Regions from separate parts of the Homo sapiens genome. Here region 2 is linked to region 1. The links come from fine-mapping of genetic effects on gene expression. A gene starts in region 1. The other region holds a variant in brackets. All regions are shown on one strand. Distances are from middle to middle.

Evidence for each region. PIP is the estimated chance that this variant, and not a neighbour inherited with it, causes the effect.
Region 2: its variant is fine-mapped to the expression of SH2D3A in whole blood (TOPMed, PIP above 0.99).

Annotation. Positions count from the first base shown.
Region 1 is chr19:6,758,828-6,772,599 of GRCh38, reverse strand. SH2D3A (SH2 domain containing 3A) reads left to right here and starts at 5,165. Exons shown (of 10, transcript NM_005490.3): 1 at 5,165-5,213; 2 at 8,784-8,920; 3 at 11,613-11,962; 4 at 12,930-13,006. The coding sequence starts at 8,852. RefSeq lists silencers at 1-73, 4,627-4,686 and enhancers at 6,775-7,675, 11,270-11,770.
Region 2 is chr19:6,742,608-6,751,954 of GRCh38, reverse strand. It overlaps TRIP10 (thyroid hormone receptor interactor 10), which reads right to left. Exons shown (of 15, transcript NM_001288962.2): 4 at 8,841-8,988; 5 at 8,699-8,761; 6 at 8,357-8,461; 7 at 8,119-8,247; 8 at 7,255-7,401; 9 at 6,961-7,155; 10 at 5,759-5,926; 11 at 5,394-5,503; 12 at 1,889-2,021; 13 at 1,524-1,663; 14 at 1,322-1,443; 15 at 425-892. The coding sequence ends at 744. It overlaps LOC124904623 (a long non-coding RNA gene), which reads left to right and starts at 3,368. Exons shown (of 2, transcript XR_007067109.1): 1 at 3,368-3,504; 2 at 3,599-3,791. RefSeq lists enhancers at 5,712-6,212, 8,264-9,183. The variant T/G (reference allele first, on the strand shown) is at 5,516.

The sequences.
Region 1 (13,772 bases):
ACGCCTTCCATGCAGAATCTGACATCTCTTTCTTCCGCCCACTCGACACAGGCCTGGGCATGGGGAGTTGGGGGGCTGGGGGAGTCAGGCCAGCTAGACTATGAGATGGGTGAGCTTCCTCCATATGCAGACGGCGGCAGTGACACTCTGAAATATACCCAGAATTCACCCACTTCTCACCCCCTCCTCTGTCTGGTCCAGCCCCGTCATCACTCAGCTGGTCTTCTGACTCCAGCCCCCGTACCCCACAGTCTGTCCTCCCTGCAGCCACCACCAGAGGTTGCCTGTGAGCATCTGAGTCAGGGCACACCCTTCTTCTGCCCACAACTCTCTATGGCTCCCACTTTCCTCCAGGGACAAGCCCAAGTCCTCCCCAAGGCCCACAAAACCCTGCTTGAATTGCCCAGTTCCCTCCCTGCCCTCCCCACTCCCTCTCTCCCCCTCTTCACTGTGCTCCAGCCACACGGGCCTCTTCGCTCTTCCTCCAACATGCCAGGAACATACGGCCCTGCCCCAGGGCCTTTGCACGGGCTGTGTCCTCCACCTTAAGCAACTTCATGGCTAGCTCCCTCACCCCTACATGTCTTTGCTCAAATGCTACCTTCTCATGAGGTCTTCCTAAATCCCCTCATTTCAAATCACAGCCTTTTCCGCATTCCATTAGCTCTACCCACCTCCCTAGGTTAAGCCCTGATCTTTGTCCAACAAATCTGATTTTTTAAGTTATTTTTTTCCTTCCTTCCTTTCTCTCCCTCTTTCCCTCCCTTCCTTTCTTCCTTCCTTCCTTCCTTCCTTCCTTCCTTCCTTTCTTTCTTTCCTTTCTTTCTCTCTTTGTTTCTTTCTTCTTTTTTTTTTTTTGAGACGGAGTCTCACTCTGTCACCCAGGCTGGAGTGCGGTGGCGCAATCTCAGTTCACTGCAAGCTCCGCTTCCCGGGTTCACGCCATTCTCCTGCCTCAGCCTCCTGAGTAGCTGGGACTACAGGCGTCCGCCACCGCGTCTGGCTAATTTTTTGTATTTTTAGTAGAGACAGGGTTTCATCGTGGTCTCGATCTCCCGATCTCATGATCCGCCCGCCTCAGCCTCCCAAAGTGCTGGGATTACAGGCGTGAGCCACCGCGCCAGGCTTCTTTCTTCTTTTTTTTTCTTTTGAGACGGAGTTTCACTCTCGTTGCCCAGGCTAGAGTGCAGTGGTGTGATCAGCTCACCACAACCTCTGCCTCCTGGGTTCAAGCGATTCTCCTGTCTCAGCTTCCCAAGTAGCTGAGATTACGGGCATGCATCACCACGCCCAGCTAATTTTGTATTTTTAGTAGAGACAGGGTTTCTCCATGTTGGTCAGGCTGGTCTCGAACTCCTGACCTCAGGTGATCCACCTGCCTCAGCCTCCCAAAGTGCTGGGATTACAGGCGTGAGCCACCGCGCCCGGCTTTTTTTTTTTTTTTTTTTTTTTTTTTTTGACAGGGTCTCATTCTGTCACCCAGGCTGGAGTGCAGTGGCATGATCTCAGCTCACTGCAAGCTCTGCCTCCCAGGTTTTCCCTGACCTCAGCCTCCCAGGCAGCTGGGATTACTGGCACCTGCCACCATGCCCAGGTAATTTTTGTATTTTCACAGAGACAGGGTTTCAGCATGTTGGCCAGGCTGGTCTCAAACTCCTGACCTCAAGTGATCTGCCCGCCTTGGTCTTCCAAAGTGCTGGGATTACAGGCTTGAGTCACTGTGCCCAGGCTCTTTCTTCTGTCATCCAGGCTGGAGTTCAGTGGCATGATCATAGCTCACTGCAGCCTCAAACTCCTGGGCTCAAGTGATCCTCCCGCCTCAGCCTCCCAAGTAGCTGGAACTACAGGCTTGTGCCACTGTGCCTGGCTAATTTTAAATTTTTTTGCAGAGAGGGGCTTTTACTATGTTGCCCAGGCTGGTCTTGAACTCCTGGCCTCAAGCAATCCTCCCACCTCGGCTTCCCAAAGTACTGGGATTACAGACGTGGGCCATGGCACCCGCTCATCATTGTTTCTTTATTGTCTGTTCAAGAATTTATGTTTCTTTGGTTCACTACTGACCCCTCTCTTATGCAGCACCTGACACATAGGCATGCCCCTTAAATACCTGTTGAATGAATAAATAATTGAAAGCTCTATTGACTGCACCTGACATTTATCCCAAATCCATCCCTTTATCACCATGTCCATGGTCACCACCCAAATCCAAGCCACCATCATCCCTCTCCTTATAGACTACAATAGTGTCTTTTTTTTTTTTTTTTTTTGTCTTGCTCTATGGACCAGGCTGGAGTGTAGTGGCGCAATCTCGGCTCATTGCAACCTCTGCCTCCCAGATTCAAGTGATTCTCCTGCCTCAGCCTCCCGAGTAGCTGGGATTATAGGTGTCACCATGCGTGGCTAAATTTTTGTATTTTCAGTAGAGACAGGGTTTCGCCATGTGGCCCAGGCTGGTCTCAAACTCCTGGCCTCAAGTGATCCACCTGCCTCAGCCTCCCAAAGTGCTGGGATTACAGGCACGAGCCACTGTGCCAGGCCCAATAGTGTCTTTCATTAACTCATTCAACAAACATTTACTGGCTTCCCGGCCATTACCTTATCATTAGCTGAAATCATCTTCATGAGATTAGGTCTCTCTGCCCCCATCCCTAGCTTCCACCCCAGTAGAGTGTAAGCAGGCCCTCCCCCGTCCACCTAATACGTGGCCCTCATCATGGAGTTTCTTTTTAAATTATCGTTATTATTATTCTTAGGAGAAAGTTTCACTCTGGTTGCCCAGGCTAGAGTGCAATGGTGCAATCTCTGCCCACAGCAACCTCTGCCTCCCAGGTTCAAGTGATTCTCCTTCCTCAGCCTCCCTAGTAGCCGGGATTACAGGTGCATGCCACCACACACAGCTAATCTGCTCACAGCAACCTCCGCCTCCCAGGTTCAAGTGATTCTCCTTCCTCAGCCTCCCCAGTAGCTGGGATTACAGGTGCATTCCACCACACCCAGCTAATTTTGTATTTAGTGGAGACAGGGTTTCACCATGTTGGTCAGGCTGGTCTGGAACTCCTGACCTCAGGTGATCTGCCCACCTCGGCCTCCCAAAGTGCTGGGCCCTCTTTTTAAATTATTATAACCACGAGGAGGCGCTAGACCCCTTCCCTGAACATGCCCCTACCCTCTGACTGTACCAATACCAGACCGGTGAGGGATAAGGAAGAAACTTTCTTCCCCTCTTGAGCCTGGAGTCTCTTCCATATTTGCCAGGGCCAGTCGGGGGAGCCCAGTCTGGAAATTCCCTGCTTTGCAACCTACAGGCATCAAAACTTTTCATCCCCAAGCATCGTTGGCCCTCTAGGCCTCAATTTCCTCATCTGTAAAATGGTGGGTGAGTAACTTTCACCGCAAAGCAGCATCGTGGAGAAAGTGGGCATGCGAAGATTGAAAAGGAGGCAGACAGGATAAAGCTCCAGAGCTCCGGGTTTGAATTTCGCCTCTACCACTTACAAGCCAGGTTAACTTGGGCAAATGGTTTAGTTGCCCTGTGCCTCAGTTTCTCCATCTGGAAAATGGAAGTGATGAAAATACTACCTACCACCCTTACAGGGTGGTCTGTTTGAAAATTAAAATAGAGGCCTCATGCCTGTAACCCCAGCACTTTGGGAGGCCGAGGCAGGTGGATCACATGAGGTCAGGAGTTTGAGACCAGTCTGGCCGAGACCCCATCTCTACTAAAAATACAAAAATTAGCCTGTAATCCCAGCTACTCGGGAGTCTACAGCCGGAGAATCGCTTGAACCGGGGAGGTGGAGGTTGCAGTGAGCTGAGACTGCTGCCACTGCACTCCAGTCTGGGCAACGAGAGTGAAACTCCATCTCAAAAAATAAAATAAAATAAAATAAAGGCAAGTTGACAGAACAGCCCTTGTGTACAGTAAGTGCTCAATAAATGTTAGCTGCTGCTACTGCTTTTAAGACTGTGGTTACTGGGGCCAAGCACAGTGGTTCATGCTTGCTTGTAATCTCAGCGCTCTGGGAGGCCAAGGCAGGAAGTTCGCATGAGCCCAGGAGTTCCAGAGCCTGGGCAGCATAGTAAGACGCCACATCTACAAAAAATAAAATAAAATCAGCTGGGTGTGGTGGTGTGCACCTTTAGTCTCAGCTGCTTGGAAGGCTGAAGCGGGAGGATAGCTTAAGCCCAGGAGGTTGAGGCTACAGTGAGCTATGATCACCACTGCACTCCGGCCTGGGCAATATAGCAAGACCCTGTCTCTACAAGACAAGACTGATGTTAATATGAGGAACTCATCAATAAACGTGGCCAAAGAGTCCTCTCTCTTGCACTAGGTCCCTGTCACCTTTTCTCTTGTTCGTCTCCAGGCATCACGATGGAAGTCCCCCCCACCCTTCTTCCCACCTGGGAAACCACCTGAATGATTTGCCTTCCACCTCCACCAAAGTCCCGCCCCGCTCCAGCGTGCTGTCACTGAAGGAAGCTGTCGCGTTTTCCCGGACGTCTCTCCACAAAACCCGCCACCTAAATGGGGCTTCTTTCCGGAAAATCCGGGAGGGCGGTCTGGAGGAAGCGTACCCCTCCTTACGTCACAGCTGCCGCAGCTACCCCAGCCTGGCGTAAGAGCCCGAGGGAGTTGCCCTGCCCTGACCCGGAGCCTTGGCGGGGAGGGGAGAGAGGCACCCCACTCCACCCCGCCCTGGTCCCAAAGGGCCATGGGTGCTTGGGGCCGCCTGGGTGGAAGGGAGGGGCAGGGTTCTAAGGGGCGGGAACGTTGGGATGAAATTTCTTCTATTGCCCTAAGGGGCGGGGCTGAGAAGGAGGTGGCTGCGGGTGGGCGTAGTCATTCGGCGGTGGTCGTGGCTATATACAAGGGGAGGGGCCACTGGCAGGAAAGGATGCGTGGTGCTCCCCTAGTGGGCGGGGTCTATGGAGAAAGCGGTGCGATGCAGAAGGAGGCGTGGCTAGTAGCAAAAAAAATGGTTTTAAGGGGGCGGAGCAAGGGCCTGGGAAGTTAGTTTGAGGCGGGGCCCGCAGGGGGCGGGGTCTGCAGGAGGTGTGGTCAGGTAACTGGGCTGAGTTCCCACTAGGTGTGGTCTGGGAAGGCTGGGGCGGTGGCAAGGTGGAGGGCGGGGGTGACAGCAGCCCGGAGCCGCGGAGCCTCAGCTTCCGCCTGGACCCAGCCTCGTGGGAGCCCCGCGGGTCCTGCCCAGGTGAGTGGAGCCCCAGGGCAGATCCAGAACCAGGATTATTGGGATGGGGAGTCCTCTCTTTCCAGGTGGGGTCACCGGCTCGCAGGGAGGATCTGGGGTAGAAGAGGTCGCCTCGCGAATGAGAGGGTCGCTGTGCGTTACGCGTGTCGGTGTGCTCGGGCTCACCTGGGCGTGCCTCTCTAAGTGTATTTCCTGTGCAGCACAGAAAGCCATTGTTTCCATTTTTGCCTGAGTGATCCTCTTAAACGGCGAATCAGATCGGGCCCCTCCTTCACTTAAAACCCTTGGGTCATAGAGATTAAAATTCAAAGTCCACTAGTTTTTGCCTAGTCTCTCCTCCTGATCTCTCCAACCTCATTGCCCTCCTATCTACTCCTTCCTCATCGTATTCCGGCTACACCAGCCGCCTTGATGATGTAAAATGTAAAAAGCAAGTCCATCTCAGCTCCAGGCCTTTACCCTTACTGTACCCCTCACCCAGGCGACTCCTCCAAATCTTTGCCTAACTGCCTCCTTCTGTACTGAGGTCTCAGTTCCAATGTCACTTTATAGGAGAGGCTGTCCTGTCCAGCCTCCTCTATCACATCTCCCTGGCTTATCACTTTCATTGATAACTCTTAGAAATGGTCTGTCTTCTCCATTCATCTTGTGCTCGTTTGCAGTCTGTCTTGCGCAGCCGACTGCAAGCTCTGGAGGGCAGGGTGGTGCCGAGCTTTAATCTCCTTAGTCACTGTATCTCTAGGTCCTAGAACAGAGCCTGGTGCACAGCAAGTGCTCCAGCAATGGTCGTCCAACGTCAAAAGCGAGTCCTGCCTACATCTGTGTTTGTGTTGCCTGTGCTGGTGGTTCCCACCCTCCACGTCCTCCCCACACGTGGACACATGTTTATGATCCAACTGGAACATGAATAATCCCCTCTCTCCTCTCTCTATGCTTGGTCTGATTCCTGATTCTGCCCGTTTCTTCTCTTCCGTGCCCGAATAAATGATCCCAAAGGACTCAGAGGCAGGAGATGGCTTAGTTGGCCTTTGGCTGACCTATGGCCACCCTGTGTCCTCAAACTAACCAGAACCTTGCCATTGACTCAACTTCACTCTCACTAAGGGAGACACAAGACAGGAACTTGGGGTTGGGAAACTCTGCGACCGAGGCTAGCCCTGGTCCAGGTGACAAACAGGAAGTGCGCAGGCATTGCAAAGACACACCTGGCTTCAGGTATGCGGCACTGGCAGCTGGCTCCCTGCCCAGCGCTCCTCCCCTAAAGCCACCTAGGGCTGGTCTGGGAACTTCCTGCTGACTCAGGAGGCAGGAATTTCTCTGCAGACCCCACCAGAAGACTTTGCAGGGCTGCAGGGAGAGCTTGCAGGAGAGTAAGAAGCAGATTATCTTCTTCTGGACCATCCAGAGAAATCTCCCCCACCAGACACCTGAGACACACTGGCCCTGAGGCCTGTGAGATTATCGGGAAACTACCAAAATGTCTGAGATCCAAATTCAATCATCATGATAACCACATGTATGGGCTCCGAAATAGAAGGATCTGCAAAGGCAACATTGCTGTTTGCTGACATTGCTACAAAATGTGACCTTTTAAAAATCTTAACCCTGGGGTTACATTCTTTTTTTTTTTTTTTTTTTTGAGACGGAGTCTTGCTCTGTCACCCAGGCTGGAGTGCAGTGGTGTGATCTCGGTTCACTGCAGGGTCTGCCTCCTGGATTCAAGCGATTCTCTCTCCTCAGCCTCCTGAGTAGCTGGGACTACAGGCACACGCCACCATGCCTGGCTAATTTTTGTATTTTTAGTAGAGACGGGGTTTCACTGTGTTGACCAGGCTGGTCTCAAACTCCTGACCTCAGATGATCCACCCACCTCTGCCTCCCAAAGTGCTAGGATTACAAGAGTGAGCCACCGCGCCTGGCCCCCAGCGTTGCATTCTAAAGCAAAGAATAGGGGTTAGATCTGCACCTATCCTGAGAACCTCTGAGTGTGCGCATAGGTTGCCGAGAAGCCATGGATGTTTGTAAGTTAAATTCCCCCTGACTGGGATGTTTTTTCACCCAGAGTCACCTGGCACACTCCCCAGAATTCCTTCCAGACTTTACTCAATGAGACCTTTCCTGGTCACATGATCAAAAATGTTCACCCAGCCTGGGCAACGTGGCAAGACCCAATCTCTACATATATATTTAAAAATTAGCCAGGCACAGCCAGACGCAGTGGCTCATGCTGGTAATCCCAGTGCTTTGGGAGGCTGAGGAGGGTGGATCACCTGAGGTCAGGAGTTCGAGACCAGCCTGGCCAACATGGAGAAACCCCATCTCTATTAAAAATATTTTAAAAATTAGCCAGGCATGGTGGCACACACCTGTAGTCCCAGCTACTGAGGAGGCCGATGCACGAGAATTGCTTGAAACCAGCAGGCGGAAGTTGCAATGAACTGAGATCATGCCACTGCACTCCAGCCTGGGCAACAGAGTGAGACTTGATCTCAAAAAAAAAAAAAAAAAAAAAAATTAGCCAGGTACAGTGGCCCACGCTCATAGTCCCAGCTACTCAGAAGGATGAGGTGGGAGAATCACTTGAGCCCAGGAGGTCAAGGCCGCAATGAGCTGTGATTGCACCACTGCAGTCCAGCCTGGGCAATAAAGCAAGACTCTGTCTCAAAAAAAAAAGAGTGTTCACCCTAGCACCTGTACTTTCATTATATCCCATCCATGGTTTAGTTTTTTTGTCTAGCACTCACTCATGTATGCCATCATCTAGTTCTTTTCTGAGGTGCTGCTCCCCAGTAGAATGTCAGCTCCCAAGGACAGAGATTTCCATCTGTTTTGTTCAATGCTATGTCTCTAGGGCCTAGAACAGAGCCTGGGACCCCATAAGGTGCTGAATAAATAGGGGTTCAGTGAATTCATTAATTACATTTCTGCAAGATGGGGTGGCATGTTGTCATCTTCAGCCATTTTTTTTTTCTTCGATTGCATTATATTTGGAACAGGCACGATGGTGACATCTGTAATCCCAACTACTTGGGAGGCTGAGGCTAGAGGATTCCTTGAGCCCAGGAATTCAAGGCTAAAGTGTGCTATGATCACACCTGTGAATAGCACTGCACTCCAGCCTGGGCAACACATAAGACCTCTCTCTTTAAATGTAAAAAAAAAAGTCTGCGTGCAGTGGCTTATGCCTGTAATCCCAGCACTTTGGGAGGCTGAGGCAGGTGGATCACCTGAGGTCAGGAGTTCAAGACCAGCCTGGCGAACACAGTGAAACCCTGTCTCTACTACAAATATAAAAAAAGAAAAAACATTAGCTGGGTGTGGTGGTGCATGCCTGTAATCCCAGCTACTTGGGAGGCTGAGGCAGGAGAATCGCTTGAATCTGGGAGGCAGAGGTTGCAGTGAGCCAAGATCGCACCATTGCACTCCAGCCTGGGTGATAGAATGAGACTCTGTCTCAAAAAAAAAAAAAAAAAAAAAAAAAGATTTGATGGAGCTGTCTCCAAAATTAAGAAGAGGATGAAAGGAGCTGACCCAGACACTCAAGCAGGGCTAATTATTCCCCTTTTACAGATGTGGAAGACTGAGGCCTGTTGAAAGTGCAGAGCTCAGCCCTGGCACCCTCTGTTCCCAAGAGCTCCATGCAGGTGCCACAGGATGGAGAAGACCTTGCTGGCCAACCTTGGTACCACGGCCTCCTGTCCCGCCAGGTACCACCCACAGCAGGACCTCAGCACCATCTGGTGGGGAGCCTCTCCCACCCTTGCTGAGGATTCCTGGGTCCCTGGATGAGGGACTTAGTGCCAAGGTCTATTGGGACAGGTGGCAGAGGGCTGGGGACTGTCTTGAAGGTTGGCTGGCTGGGGACTGTCACTATATTTAAATTATCACTTTCTTTGGGATGATGAGATTGGTGATGGAGCTTAAGGAGAGTCCTAATGCCCCCAAACTACTCTTGGCTCTGGCCGTCTCTCCCTCTGAACTCCATCTACCTCCTGGTATTTCCCTCTAAATGTGAGGCTCCCAAGCCAGGCATGGTGGCTCACGCCTGTAATCCCAACAGTTTGAAAGGCCGAGGTGGGCGGATCACTTGAAGTCAGGAGTTCAAGACCAGCCTGGCCAACATTGTGAAACCCCATCTCTAATAAAAATACAAAAATTAGCCAGACATGGTGGTATGCGCCTGTAGTCTCAGCTACTTGGGAGGCTGAGGCAGGAGAATCTCTTGAACCCAGGAGGCAGAGGTTGTAGTGAGCCACAATTGTGCCACTGCACTCCAGACTGGGTAACAGAGCGAGACTCTGTCAAAAACATAAATAAATAAACAAACAAATAAATCTGAGGCTCCCACCTCCATCTGAAACTCAGTTGTCACCCCCAAAAATTCTGGGACCCTGAGCATCTCATGAAATCATGAGAGGCAGTAGAACTTAATAGTTAAAATCCCATAATTGAGACCCAGACACCCTAGGTTCAAATCCAAACCCTACAATTTATATTGTATGTGACCTTGGGCAGGACATTTGACCTCTCTGGGCCTCAGTCTCCCGATCTTTAACATAGGGATAGCAGGCCAGGCATGTTGGCTCATGCCTGTAATCCCAGCACTTTGGGAGGCTGAGGCAGGAGGATCACTTGAGGTCAGGAGTTCCAAACCAGTCTGGGCAACATAGCAGAACTCTGTCTCTACACAAAAAAAAAAAAAAAAGCGAAAATTATCCAGGCATGGGTGGCATGTACCTGTTGTCCCAACTACTCAGGAGGCTGAGATGGGAGGATTGCTTAAGCCCAGGAGGTCAAGGCTGTGAGTGAGCCATGAGTGCTCCACTGCACTCAGCCTGGGCAATCGAGAGAGACCTTGACTCAAAAAAAAAAAAAAAAAAAAAAGGCCGGAAGAAAAAAATGGGCCGGGCATGGTGACTCATGCCTGTAATCCTAGCACTTTGGGAGGCCGAGGTGGGTAGATCACCTGAAGTCAGGAGTTCGAGACCAGCCTGACCTATATGATGAAACCCCCTCTCTACTAAAAATACAAAAAAGTAGCCAGGCATGGTGGCATGCACCTGTAATCCCAGCTACTCGGGAGGCTGAGACAGCAGAATCGCTTGAACCCAGGAGGCAGAGGTTGCAGTGAGCCGAGATTGTGCCATTGCACTCCAGCCTGAGCAACAAGAGTGAAACTCCGTCCCAAAGAACAACAACAAAAAAAGGTATAATAATACCTACCACCCTTGTTACAGGAATTACAAGAGTTAACACCCTTTACATTTAAAGCAGTGCTTGACATATAGTAAGGGCTACACACGTGTGTCTGCTACATCTATTATTTAGTCCCCAGACCCCATGTTCAGCTCTACTTTGCCTCTCTCTGGGGTCCTGGCCCTTCTACCTGCCTCCCCAAGCCTTTTTTTTGTTTTTTTTTTTGTTTTTTTTTTGTTTTTGAGACATGATCTCACTCTGTCACCCATGCTGGAGTGCAATGGCTCCATCTCGGCTCACTGCAACCTCTGCCTCCTGGGTTCAAGCGATTCTCCCACCTCAGCCTCCTGAGTAGCTGGAATGACAGGTGCACACCACCACGCTCAGCTAATTTTTATATTTTTTGGTAGAGACAGGGTTTTGCCATGTTGCCCAGGCTGGTCTCAAACTCCTGATCTCAAGTGATCTGCCTACCTCAGCCTCCCAAAGTGCTGGGATTACAGGTGTGAGCCACTGTGCCCCACCCTTCCTACCCTATTTTGACACCAGCCACCACAGCTGGCATAAGACTGCTTGCAAATGTTTATAAAAGAGGGGGCCCCAATCTGGAAGCATCCAGCTAATGGCTTCTCTTGAAGCCACATTTGCATAACAAGCACAGTGCATTTACCAAATTAGATGTTGCATTGGTCAGCATCAGCTAGTGGCTGTAACAAACATTCCCAAGATATCACCAGCTAAACACAGTCAACATGTTAATGTCATAGTCCAAGGTGGTTGAGAAGCAGAGATGCAAAGCTCCATAAATCAGTTGGGAGCCAAGTGCATCTTGTAGCTCTGTCATCCCTCTGGGCTTTGGGGGATATCAGCTGACAGACAGGGGACACAACCTATAAGATTGTGCAGCAGGGTTTTATGCGCCAGGTCTGGATATTTCCCATAGCCCTTCTACCCCACATCCCATTGGCCAGTTCTCATCACATGACAACCCTAGCCGCAAGGGAACCTGGGAAATGTAGTCTACGTAGGTGCCAGGAGAAAGGGGGACAGAACTTGGTGTGAAAGTTCCCCGTCTTTGCCTGCCACAGAAGTTTCACTGGGGTAGCTTTTCTTGGGTGGTGGGGGCAATGGTGGGGGGAGCTACCATTAACCACTGCCCTGGACTCATTCCTAATTCCCCTGCCCCCTGAACTTCATCCACAGAAGGCTGAAGCTCTTCTTCAGCAAAATGGCGACTTCCTGGTTCGCGCCTCTGGGTCCCGTGGGGGCAACCCCGTGATCTCCTGCCGCTGGCGGGGCTCAGCCCTCCATTTTGAGGTGTTCCGTGTGGCCCTGCGTCCCCGGCCAGGCCGACCCACAGCCCTCTTTCAACTGGAGGATGAGCAATTCCCCAGCATACCGGCTCTGGTTCACAGTTATATGACAGGCAGGCGCCCACTGTCCCAGGCCACAGGGGCTGTGGTCTCCAGGCCTGTGACTTGGCAGGGGCCTCTGCGACGCAGCTTTAGCGAGGACACCCTGATGGATGGCCCAGCTCGGATAGAGCCTCTCAGGTACTCACAGTCTCCCTGCCTCCTTGAGAACACCCAACACTCGCAGGGTTTTCCAACTCAATGGTTGACTTTTTTTTTTTTTGACTGAGTCTCACTCTGTTGCCCAGGCTGGAGTGCAGTGGCATGATTTCAGCTCACTGCAACCTCCACCTCTCAGGTTCAAGCGATTCTCCTGCCTCAGCCTCCAGAGTAGCTGGGATTACAGGAGTGCACCACCACGCCCAGCTAATTTTTTTACTTTTTTATTTTTTATTTTTCTCTGGAGTCGAAGTCTCACTCTGTTGCCCAGGCTGGAGTGCAATGGCACGATCTCAGCCCACTGCAACCTCCGCCTCCCGGGTTCAAGCAATTCTCCTGTCTCAGCTTCCCGAGTAGCTGGGATTACAGGCGTGCACCACCATGCCTGGCTAATTTTTTGTATTTTTAGTAGAGACGGGGTTTCACCATGTTGGCCAGGCTGGTCTCAAACTCCTGACCTCAAGTGATCCACCCGCCTCGGCCTCCCAAAGTGCTGGGATTACAGGCATGAGCCACCACGCCTGGCTAATTTTTTGTATTTTTAGTAGAGACAGGGTTTCACCATGTTGGCCTGGCTGGTCTTGAACTTTTGACCTCACGTGACCGCCCGCCTCAGCCTCCCATAGTGCTGGGATTACAGGTGTGAGCCACCGCACCCGGCCTTGGTTGACTTTTGAGGCCCGAACATTCTTAGTTGTGGGGGAGGAGGTGGAGATGTCCTGTGCATCATAGGGTGCTGAGCAGCATTCCTGAGCTCCATCCAACTAGATGCTACTAGTTGTGACAACTAAAGATGTCTCCACACGTTGCTAAGAGTCCCCTGGACGTAGGTCACCTTGATTGGTTGAGACTCACTGGTACAGAGTAACTGGACACAGGGTTTTGCAGATATTGGTGGGGGACACTGCTTAGGTGGGGACTACAGGTTTCTCCCACTTCTGTCCCCCAGGGCAAGGAAGTGGAGCAACAGTCAGCCTGCAGATTTGGCACATATGGGGCGGTCAAGAGAAGACCCCGCTGGGATGGGTAAGTGTCTGCTAGAATGGCCTGTGGCTCAGGGATTGGCTCTGCCACTCACCACCTAAGAGATCTTGGTCAGGTGCAGGCACCTCTTCGAGCCTCAATTTCTTGCTTTAGAAAATGATGACAATCACGATGACTTAAAACATGCAGGGACTTTGTGGGTGCTTAAAATGTGTGTTTACAAGGCTGAGCGCGGTGGCTCATGCCTGTAATCCCAGCACTTTGGGAGGCCGAGGCCGGTGGATCACTTGAGGTCAGGAATTCGAGACCAGCCTTGCCAACATGGTGAAACCCCATCTCCACTAAAAACACAAAATTAGCCGAGCGTGGTGGCACGCACCTGTAATCCCAGCTACTCTGGAGGCTGCGGCAGGAGAATCGCTTGAACCTGGGAGGTGGAGGTTGCAGTGAGCCGAGATGGCGCTACCGCACTCCAGACTGGGTGACAGAACAAAACTCCATCTCAAAAAAAAAAAAAAGTGTTTACAATTATTCCAAGGAGCTGTACCTGTTCTGACCACAGCTTACCTTGCTAACAACTTCTGCTACGTACCCTCCTCATGCTGGTCACACAGCCCTCCTTGCAGTTGTTCGAACCCTCAGGCTTTTATTCCCGCCTCGGGGCCTTTGCATTTTACATTTCCACCAGTGACGGGAACATTCTCATTCCCCTAATTTTTTCCTGAGTGGCTCCTCTCCATCCAGGGTAAGTTCCTCAAAGCAGTTGAGTCTGACGGTCTTACCTAAAGGAGGACTCACCTGAATGCCC
Region 2 (9,347 bases), 18 kb after region 1:
CTTGAGGTCAGGAGTTCAAGACCAGCCTGGCCAACATGGCAAAACCCTGTCTCTACAAAAAATACAAAAATTAGCTGGGCATGATGGTGTGTGCCTGTAATCCCAGCTACTTGGGAGGCTGAGGCAGAATTGCTTGAACTCGGGAGATGGAGTCTGCAGTGAGCTGAGATCACGTACGCCACTGCACTCCAGCCTGGGCAACTGGGTGAGACTGTCTCAAAAAGAAAAAAAAAAGAAACTTGGTATCCTTCTCCCTACCTGAGTCACAAGCAGACACCCACTGACAATGACATAGGCCAACTTCCAGAAAGGGGCAGGGTTGACCCAAGGTGTGCCCAAGATCACCTCCCCTTCCTCATTCCCTGTGTGGCCTGTAAGAAACGTGGTGTTAGATACTTCCAGTCCCAGTATTTAAATCCTCTAATAAGACACCGACTCTAGGAACTTTATATAATTTCTTTTTTTTTTTTCCCATTTTTGTATAAAACAAAATGGCCGGAGCCGAGCGGCAGAAAGAAAAGATGTAAAACATGAGTATGTACATCAATGGTGGAACGATGGTAGAAGGCACAGCGGGTCCGTCCGGTGTGACAGGTAGGACTGGGTTGGGGGTGGAGGGGGCAGCAGGTTACACAGGTCTCAGCCGAAGCCACGGGGTCAGAAATAAAGTGCATAGGTCCTGGGGCTCCCCGTGGCCCAGAAGCAGCAGCCGACAGCCCCCCTCTTCCCGTCTCTGGCAGGGTTCAATTGAGCGTGACTCGGAGGTAGGAGGTGGGCACGTAGCCCTCGCCTCCCTCTTTCCGCCTGACCCGGGTCCAGCCGTCCCCTTTGTCTTCTTCCATAAGACTGAGGTCTTCACCCTCGGCCATAGAGATAGTGCCCTCGCTGGACCCTGTGATGGGGGTGGGGGTGGGCCCAGATCTGCTTTAGGCAAAATTTATTATTTTTATTTTTTATTTTTGAGACAGAGCCTCGCTCTCGCCCAGGCTGGAGTGCAGTGGCACGGATCTTGGCTCCCTGCAACCTCTGCCTCCAGGTTCAAGGGATTCTCCTGCCTCAGCCTCCCGAGTAGCTGGGATCACAGGCGTGCGCCACCACACCTGGCTAATTTTTGTACTTTCAGTAGAGATGGGGTTTCACCGTGTTCGCCAGGCTGGTATGGAATTCTTGACCTCAAGTGATCTGCCTGCCTCAGCTTCCCAAAGTGCTGGGATTACAAGCCTGAGCCACCCGCCCAGCCCTGCTTTAGGCGAATTTAAACTGAACCTAGCCAGAGACACTGCCTCCCATACCCCGCCAAGCCCACTCTGGCCGTTCTCACCTTCAAAGTGGTAGATGGCCACACAGTGACCTATGGGGGATGTGGGTTCCTCCTCGAAATCCTCATCAAACTCCGTGTAAATGGGGGTGTCCTGGCTCTCTTCTGAGGGAGGCTCTTCAGAGCTGTTTGGGGATAATTCGGCAGATAAAGACAGGCCCTCCTGGGACCCTGGGAACAGACCCACTCTGACGTCACCCCTCACCTCTCCTTGGTGTCCTGTGATGCGCTGTTGCTGCTGCTGTCTGGCGGGGCGCTAGCGGGGGGGTCGGGAGGCCGGGCGTGCCGGCTCAGGCTGTCTCCCCGGTTGCTAAGGACTCGACTTTCAGCTTCTGCCAGCCACGCCTGGGAGGAGGGGACAGGAAAATCGTTCCAGGGCAGAGCTCCGGGGTCAGCCCACTTTGGACCCAGAGGTTCCCTGAGATCACCCACGCACAGCCAAGGCTGTGATGGAAAACAGCTGGAGACCCCCCGCTCCGAACACCTCCCCTGTCCCCGACCCCCCACCCCACCCAGCAGTGACTCAGCCAGGCCCGCTGGCTCCCGCCCCTCCCCAGGGTCTTTCCTGACCTCATACTTCTGCACTTCCAATTTCAGCCGTTCAATGTTGCTCAGGGTTTCAGCGATCTGGGGCTCCAAGCTGGCGGGGTCCCCCATCTGAGGTGTCTTCTCATAGACATCCTTCATTTTCTTTAGGGCTTCCCTATGACAAGGGAGACAGGATAGACAGGAAAACATACTTCCGTGTGAGTTTTTTTGTTGCTGTTGTTTTGTTTTGTTTGAGTCAGGGTCTCATTCTGACTCTTTCCCCAGGCTGGTGTGCAGTGGTGCAATCATGGCTCACTGCAACCTTAACCTCCCGGGCTCAAGTGATACTCCTGCCTCAGCCTCCTGAGTAACTGGGACTATAGACCCGCATCACCACACTCGCCTGATTTTTCAAAAATTTTTAGTAGAGATGGGGTCTGGCTATGTTGCCCAGGCTGAGTTCAAGGGATCCTCCTGGCTCAGCCTCCCAAAGTGCTGGGATTACAGGCATGAGCCACAGCACCGGGCTCCATGTGATTTAACAAGCAAAAAACAGGGGTTTTGCATCAAGGAGCAAATAGCAAGGCAGGACAATGGTTAAGGATGCAAATACTAGTGCCCGACTGCCTGGGTTCGAATCTCAGTTTGAATATTTCCTAGCTGTGTGAGCTTGGCTTAAATCATTGAACCCCCACTGCTGTTTGCTTATTTTGGAAATGGAGATAATGATCCTAATATCTCATGTGGGTCACTGTGAGGATTAATACAATGCCTGATACCTAGTAAGTCCTCACTATTACTCATATACATATTGAGTACCTACTGCATACAGGTCCTATTCCAAGCATCAGAAATATAACACTGGGCTGGCCGTGGTGGCTCACATCTGTAATCCCAGCATTATTTTGGGAGGCTGAGGTGGAAGGATCACTTGAGGCCAGGAGTTCAAGACCAGCCTGGGCAATGGTGTGAGACTTTGTCTCTAGTAAAAAATCAAAATAATTTTTAAAAAATAAAAAAAGAAGGGGGGGCAGGGGAAAAAATAAATAAAGATAAATATAACACTAAACAAGACAGATCTTAAGTCTGCATACAATCTCTCAGGAAACCTTGAAAATTCGAATAAATCCATGTACACTGTTTCGAATAGTGCCTAGAATGCAGTAAGTGACTAATAAATACTGTTATCATTATCATCAGTTTCTCATCCCTGTCTCCCCTATGTCTATATATACAGGTAGTCACGACTATAATGGACCTTTGGAAAAGACCAGATCTGAGCTCAACTTCCTTCCAGTTATTTTTTATCTTTTTTTGAGACACAGTCTCACTCTGTCGCCCAGGCTGGAATGCAGTGGCGCAATCTCGGCTCACAGCAACCTGTGCCTCCCGGGATCAAGTGATTCTCGTGCCTCAGCCTCTGGAGTAGCTGGGACTACAGGCACACGCCACCACGCCTGGCTAATTTTTATATTTTTAGTAGAGACAGGATTTCCATATGTTGGCCAAGCTGGTCTCAAACTCGGTCTCAAGCCATCTGCCTGCCTCGGCCTCCCAAAGTGCTTGGATTACAGGCATAAACCACTGCACCCTGCCAACTTCATTCCAGTTCTAATACCTGATCCACTTTACAGATGAAGAAACTGAGGAATTAAAAGGTAAAACAGGCTGCCCAAGTCCTGAGATGAAGCTGGAAATCAAGTCCAGTTTGTCGTGACTCTAGAACATGCACCCTTAACCCCTCCACCGTAGAAACTCAGGAACTAGAGAGTTCTGAATGGAACTTTACACCAATAAAAGCCATTCTGTCCAAGAGGTTACATGCAAATGGCAAAATATAATTTGGCTGCCTGTTTGCAAGTGGCAAACATCATTCCTATTATGTAACAGAACTGGGAAGAGGATTTTGTTGCCTGGAAAGAGTGAGTAAAGATTTTTTTTTTAATCTGCCAGATTTTTTTATTGTCAATATTTTAAGTGTTTGAGCTATTAAATAGATAACCATATGCTGCTTTTCTTTTAGCCAATTAATGTGGTGAACTAGATGGATACATTTTTTGATATTGAACTATCTTTGCATTATTGGGATAAAACCCAACCAATGGTGGATTTTTTTTTTTTTAGTTTTTAAAAAAATTTACTTGGGTTTTTCTTCTTCTTCTTCTAAGAGATGGGGTTTTACTACGTTGCCCAGGCTGGCCTTGAACTCCTAGGCTCAAGTGAGTGATCCTTCTACCCAGCCTCCCAAAGTGCTGGGCTTATAGGCATGAGCCACTGTGCTCGGCTAATGTATTATTATTATTATTATTATTATTTGAGGTAGAGACTCGCTGTGTTACCCAGGCTGGAGTGCAGTGGTGCAGTCTTGACTCACTGCAACCTCCGCCTCCCAGGTTCAAGCGATTCTCCCACCTCAGCCTCCCGAGTAGCTGGAATTACAGGCGCGTGCCACAATGCCCAGCTAGTTTTTGTATTTTTAGTAGAGACGGGGTTTCACCATGTTGGTCAGGCTGGTCTCGAACTCCTGACCTCACGTGATCTGCCCTCCTTGGCCTCCCAAAGTGATGTATTATTTTTTAAACACTGGATTTGCTTGGCTAGGATTTTGCCTCTATGATCATAAATAAGGTAAAATGAGCCCTTAATTTTATCTTATTGAATTCTTGGCCACAGATTTGGGAATCAGGATTCTTCAGCCTAAAGAGGTTGACAGCTTTCACACTTTTTCTGTTTGCTGGAATGACTTGTATAAGACAAGAAGTAACTGTTTCTTTTTTTCTTTTTGAGACAGGGTCTCACTCTGACACCCAGGCTGAAGTGCAAGTGGTGCAGTCACAGCTCACTGTAGTCTCCATTTCCCAGGCTTAAGCCATCCTCCCACCTCAGCCTCCCAAGTGGCTGGGACTACAGACACAAACCACCACACCCAGCTAATTTTTTTATTTTTGCTAGAAATGGGGTCTCACTCTGTTGCCCAGGCAGGTCTCAAACTCCTAGGCTCAGATGATCCTCCTGCCTCAACCTCCCAAAATGCTGGGATTGCAGGCACAGGCCACTGCACCTGGCCAAGAAGTAACTAAGTGTGGTAGGAATCACCTGTAAAACCGTCGGGGCCTTGGGATTATTGGGGAGATCTTTGAGTACCATTTAAATGTCATTCATTTACAGACCCGGGCAGTGGCTCATGCCTATAATCCCAGCACTATGGGAGGCTGAGGCAGGCAGATCAACTGAGGCCAGGAGTTCAAGACAGCCTGGCTAATATGGGGAAACCCCGCCTCTACTAAAAATATAAAAATTAGCTGGTGCATGCCTGTGGTCCTAGCTAATCGGCAGGCTGAGGCACAAGAATTGCTTGAACCTGGGATGTGGCGATTGCAGTGAGCTAAGATCACAGCACTGCACTCCAGCCTGGACGACAGACTAAGACCCTGTCACAAAATAAAATATAATAAAATAAATAAAATAAAATAATAAACAAATAAGTGAAGTTCATTTACTATTTTATCATGTTCCTTGCCTGTCCTTCCCTACCCCACCACCTTACCTCTGGTCAACCTCCTTCTGAAGTTCACGACTGCGTTCTTCCAACTGCTGTTGAAGCCGTTTTCGCTGCTGCTCTGGGGGCAAGTGGCTAAAATCCTCGGTCACCACTGTCTGCAAGGTGGG[T/G]AGAGGGCTGAATTTGGGATCAAGGAGTCTAGCCTGCCAGACTCTGCACCCGTCTGAGATATTTCACTCCCTTCCCCAGCCATGGTTCTTGACAGCGAAGCCATGCACAGAGCAAAGCAGGTCTGGGTTGGGCAACCAGGGAAGAGGGGCCCAGCCAGCGGCAGGAAGCGAGCCCAGGGTCCCGCCACCCGCCGCTGGGCAGGCTAGGGCCACCACCTCCTCCTGCCCCGAGGCCTCACTTACCCCACGGCTGCCTCGAAGGCTGCGGAAGGATGCTAGCCTCGGTTTGACCGACTTACTGATCTCGCTCAGTATGGCCAAGGGGTCACGGCCGGAGCGGGGGGACGGGGGTCCGTTAGGCAATGCCGAGGGTACGGGGCCCCCCAGGGGGGAGAGGGGTGGGGGGCGAGGCTACCGGCGGGGGCCGGGGAGGGGGATAGGTTGAAGGGGTGGGGGGGCATAGGAGGATGTAGAGAGTGAGGACGAATGGACGGAGGGATGGACGCACGGATGGACGGATGGACGCAAAAAAAGGAAAAAGGAAAAACAAAATGGAGAAAGAAAAAAAACGGTAAGAAAACCACAACTCAAGATGCACAACCACACAGAGAAAACGCATGCAGGAGCGACACAAAAAAATCTGGAAGGTGGCGGGGAGGATGTTGAACTGTAAGCCCGAAAGCCAGAACTCTCACTCCCCCGGTATCTCCTAGGTCTCTGGAATGTTATGTCCGGGAGCAAGCATGGGTCCAGGAGGCAGGGAGGCCCATGTCTCTCTGTCCACTTAGCTTTCTGGGCTGACAGTCTAGAAGACGCATGCAGGAATCAAGGTCTCAGACAGGTAAGAGGCCACAGAGGACAAAAATAAATAAACAAAAATAAAACCACAAGCCGAGAGGGAGTGGAAGGCAGGAAAATGAGAGGGGTTAGGGGCATCAGAAGTTTAAGCTCGGGGATCACAGGTGTTAAGTCAAGGAGAGGTATGAGAGTGTAAGTGAAGAGGGACCCAAAGTATAAATCAAAGGTATAAACCAAGGGTGCTAAGGTATATTAAAATCCAAAAACCCAAGAAAGCAAGACATGCAGGGCGGCTCCCAGAGTCCCATCAGCAGGATGGAGAGAGAAACTCGGGGAGTCCCCAGGGATGGTGTCACCAGCCCTCAGGCCAGCCCTGAATTCCACCAGCAGGTTTTCTCCCAGCATCCCGAGAAGCAGCAGACAAACGCCACGGACCTCCCCACCTCCCCACCCTGCCCCCGCCTTCGCCTCGGGGGACTCCCAGGCCAATCGGCCGCCTTCCTTCCCTCCAGTCCGGGCTGGCAGCCAAGAGGAAAATTCCTGCCCGAGACTCGGCGTTCAGGCGGCTGGGGCTGACTCAATAGGGGCCCCACTGTCCCCACTTCACTGTCCTTCTCCCCCACCATCCCAAGGGTCCCGGCCCCCACCTTGTTCTTCTTGCCAAAAGGCCAGCGCTTGGTGCGGCTGCGACCCGGGCCTCGGAGTTCAGGCCGTCCATCCGAGGGGGTGCCCAGACTGCTGTCGGAGGGTGCACGGTTCATGGGCTGGCTGAAGTCCTCGAATTCCACGTCGCCCGGGCGGGCAAAACCTGACTTGTGCAGCTCTATAAGGACGTGGGAGTCCTGGGGGAGGGGGACAGTGGATGAGCAGTCGAGTGCCTAGCCTATGGGTACCTCCCTCTGCCCTTCCCGTAGCCCAGTGGACCCAGACCAGGCACCCACGTTCTTGGGATCCACAGCATTTGCAGCCACCTTCATGCCCTCCAAGCACTTGGCTATTATGGGCACCACCTCCAGCTCGGCCTCCGACAGGAGCCCATACCCGGCACCCAGGCGGGTGGCCCTGCGTTCATCCATGTCTTGGAGCTTCTGTAAGGACAGGGACAAGGGTGGCTCAGGGGTGCTAACAGAGGGACTAGAAGCACAGTGATTCACTCTGCAAATATGATCGCGCTCCACGCTGGCCCCAGCCCCAAGCCAGTCTGGAGGGGAAGACAGAGTCGGGAAGAGAGACTCCAGCCCACTGTGGTTGGGGAAGAGACACAGGGCCAGGGGGATCTCAGAGGGGGACGCGTGCCTAGGGGGTCAGCAAAGGCTTCTCAAAGGAGGAGACAAGGGAACAGGGATTTGAAGAAAAAGCAGAACCAGCCCTGATACTCCCAGGGCCACGGATGGGACAGAGAGTGGAGCGCTAGATTGAAACAGGAGAGGGGAAATTCGAGACCTTTCAGAGGGGTTGTTAGAGGTGGAGCTTAGAAGAATAAGTAGGAATTTCAAAAAGAAAGAAAGGTCACTTGAGCACAGGGGTTCCAGGCTGCAGTGAGCTGTGATTATGCCACTGCACTCCTGCCCGGGTGACAGAGCCAGGCCCCATCTCTCTATAGAAGTAAATAAACAAACAAGTAAAAGGCATGCCCAGCAGGAAGAACAGCTGACTAAAAGCACAGCTCACTGTTACTATAGGTTTCTGATTCCCTTTCAATCTAGGGACTGGGACATTGCAGCTGGGGTTTTGATGAATGCGTAGGAGTTGGCTAACATTTGGAGGCTTTCGGGAAGGTAGGTCTGAGAACTGGGAGCACTCACATCGAATATCTGGGGCATCTGTGAAAAATAGAAGTGGGCTTGGTCTCGGTTGAAGCGCTGCAGTTGAGCCGCATATTCGTTTTTGCTTTCTTCGGCCATGTGACTCCGAAGGTGGGCTTGCTGCTTGGCCTGAAGAATGCAGAGGTGGAAGGTACTGCCAGGTTCCGATCACGTCCCACTCGGACTCCCCAAGCTTGTCCCAGACCCCGCACCCCCCCCCCGCCCCCGCCACACACACCTTCTCCACATCAGCCTTGGTGGCGTTGATATCCTGGTCTAGCCGTTCAGCAGTCTGGGCTGCCTTCTCTGCCTCCCGGCAGTCCCGCTCAAATTTACGCTTACTCTGTGTAGGGGACAGAACCGGAGTGAGGGAGCCACCATCCCAAAGACAGCAGGGTGGGAAACCAAGGTTTCAGGGATTATTGGGATGTCATCCAGTAAGTAGGGGTCAAGGGAGTACTGGAAGCCTATGGGGGAGGGAAGGTCCAGGTCTGACAAAGAGGGCAGCTCCCTGACTCCGGATCCGCAACCCTGCCCCCATGCCTCCGGGCCACAGTCACTGCTACCTCTGCAAACTCACATTCTCCAGCTGTTTAAAGCCATTTTCCAGCTGCTGCTGGGCCCGCCGCCCTTCTTGGAAGTGCTACAGAAAGAAGAGTGATAAGGCTCGCCAGGGTTCCAGCAGAAGCCCTTTGTAAAACCTGAATCGGGGGGCTCCTCACCATCTTCCTCTCCTGTTTCATCTCTTGTGAGTACTTGGTCAGCTCAAGACATACACGGACACTGAGGTTCTCAGCCACCAGCTCCCGCTGGCCTGCAAAGTCATTCACCTCCTGGAGAATCTGTACGAAGGACTGTTGCTGGCTGAATCTGGGGTTGGATGAGAATCGGGGAACAGGGAGTCAGGCCCCTCCTCCCGAGCAGGCTGATGCCCCAGGACGCACCTCCAGGTGGAAAAGGGTTAAGCCCCAAGAATGTAATCCCTGAAGCGATGACAAATTCTGGTCCATATTCCTTAACCCCAACCCTTGAGTAGATTTTTTTTTTTTTTTTTTTTGAGACAGGGTCTTGCTGTCACCCAGGCTGCAGTGCAGCGGCATGATTGCGTCTCACTGCAGCCTCAAACTCCTGGGCTCAAGTGATCCTCCCACCTCAGGCTCCCAAATAGCTGGGACCACAGGCACACGCCACCACACCTGGCTAATTTTTTTTTTCCAGATGAGGTCTCA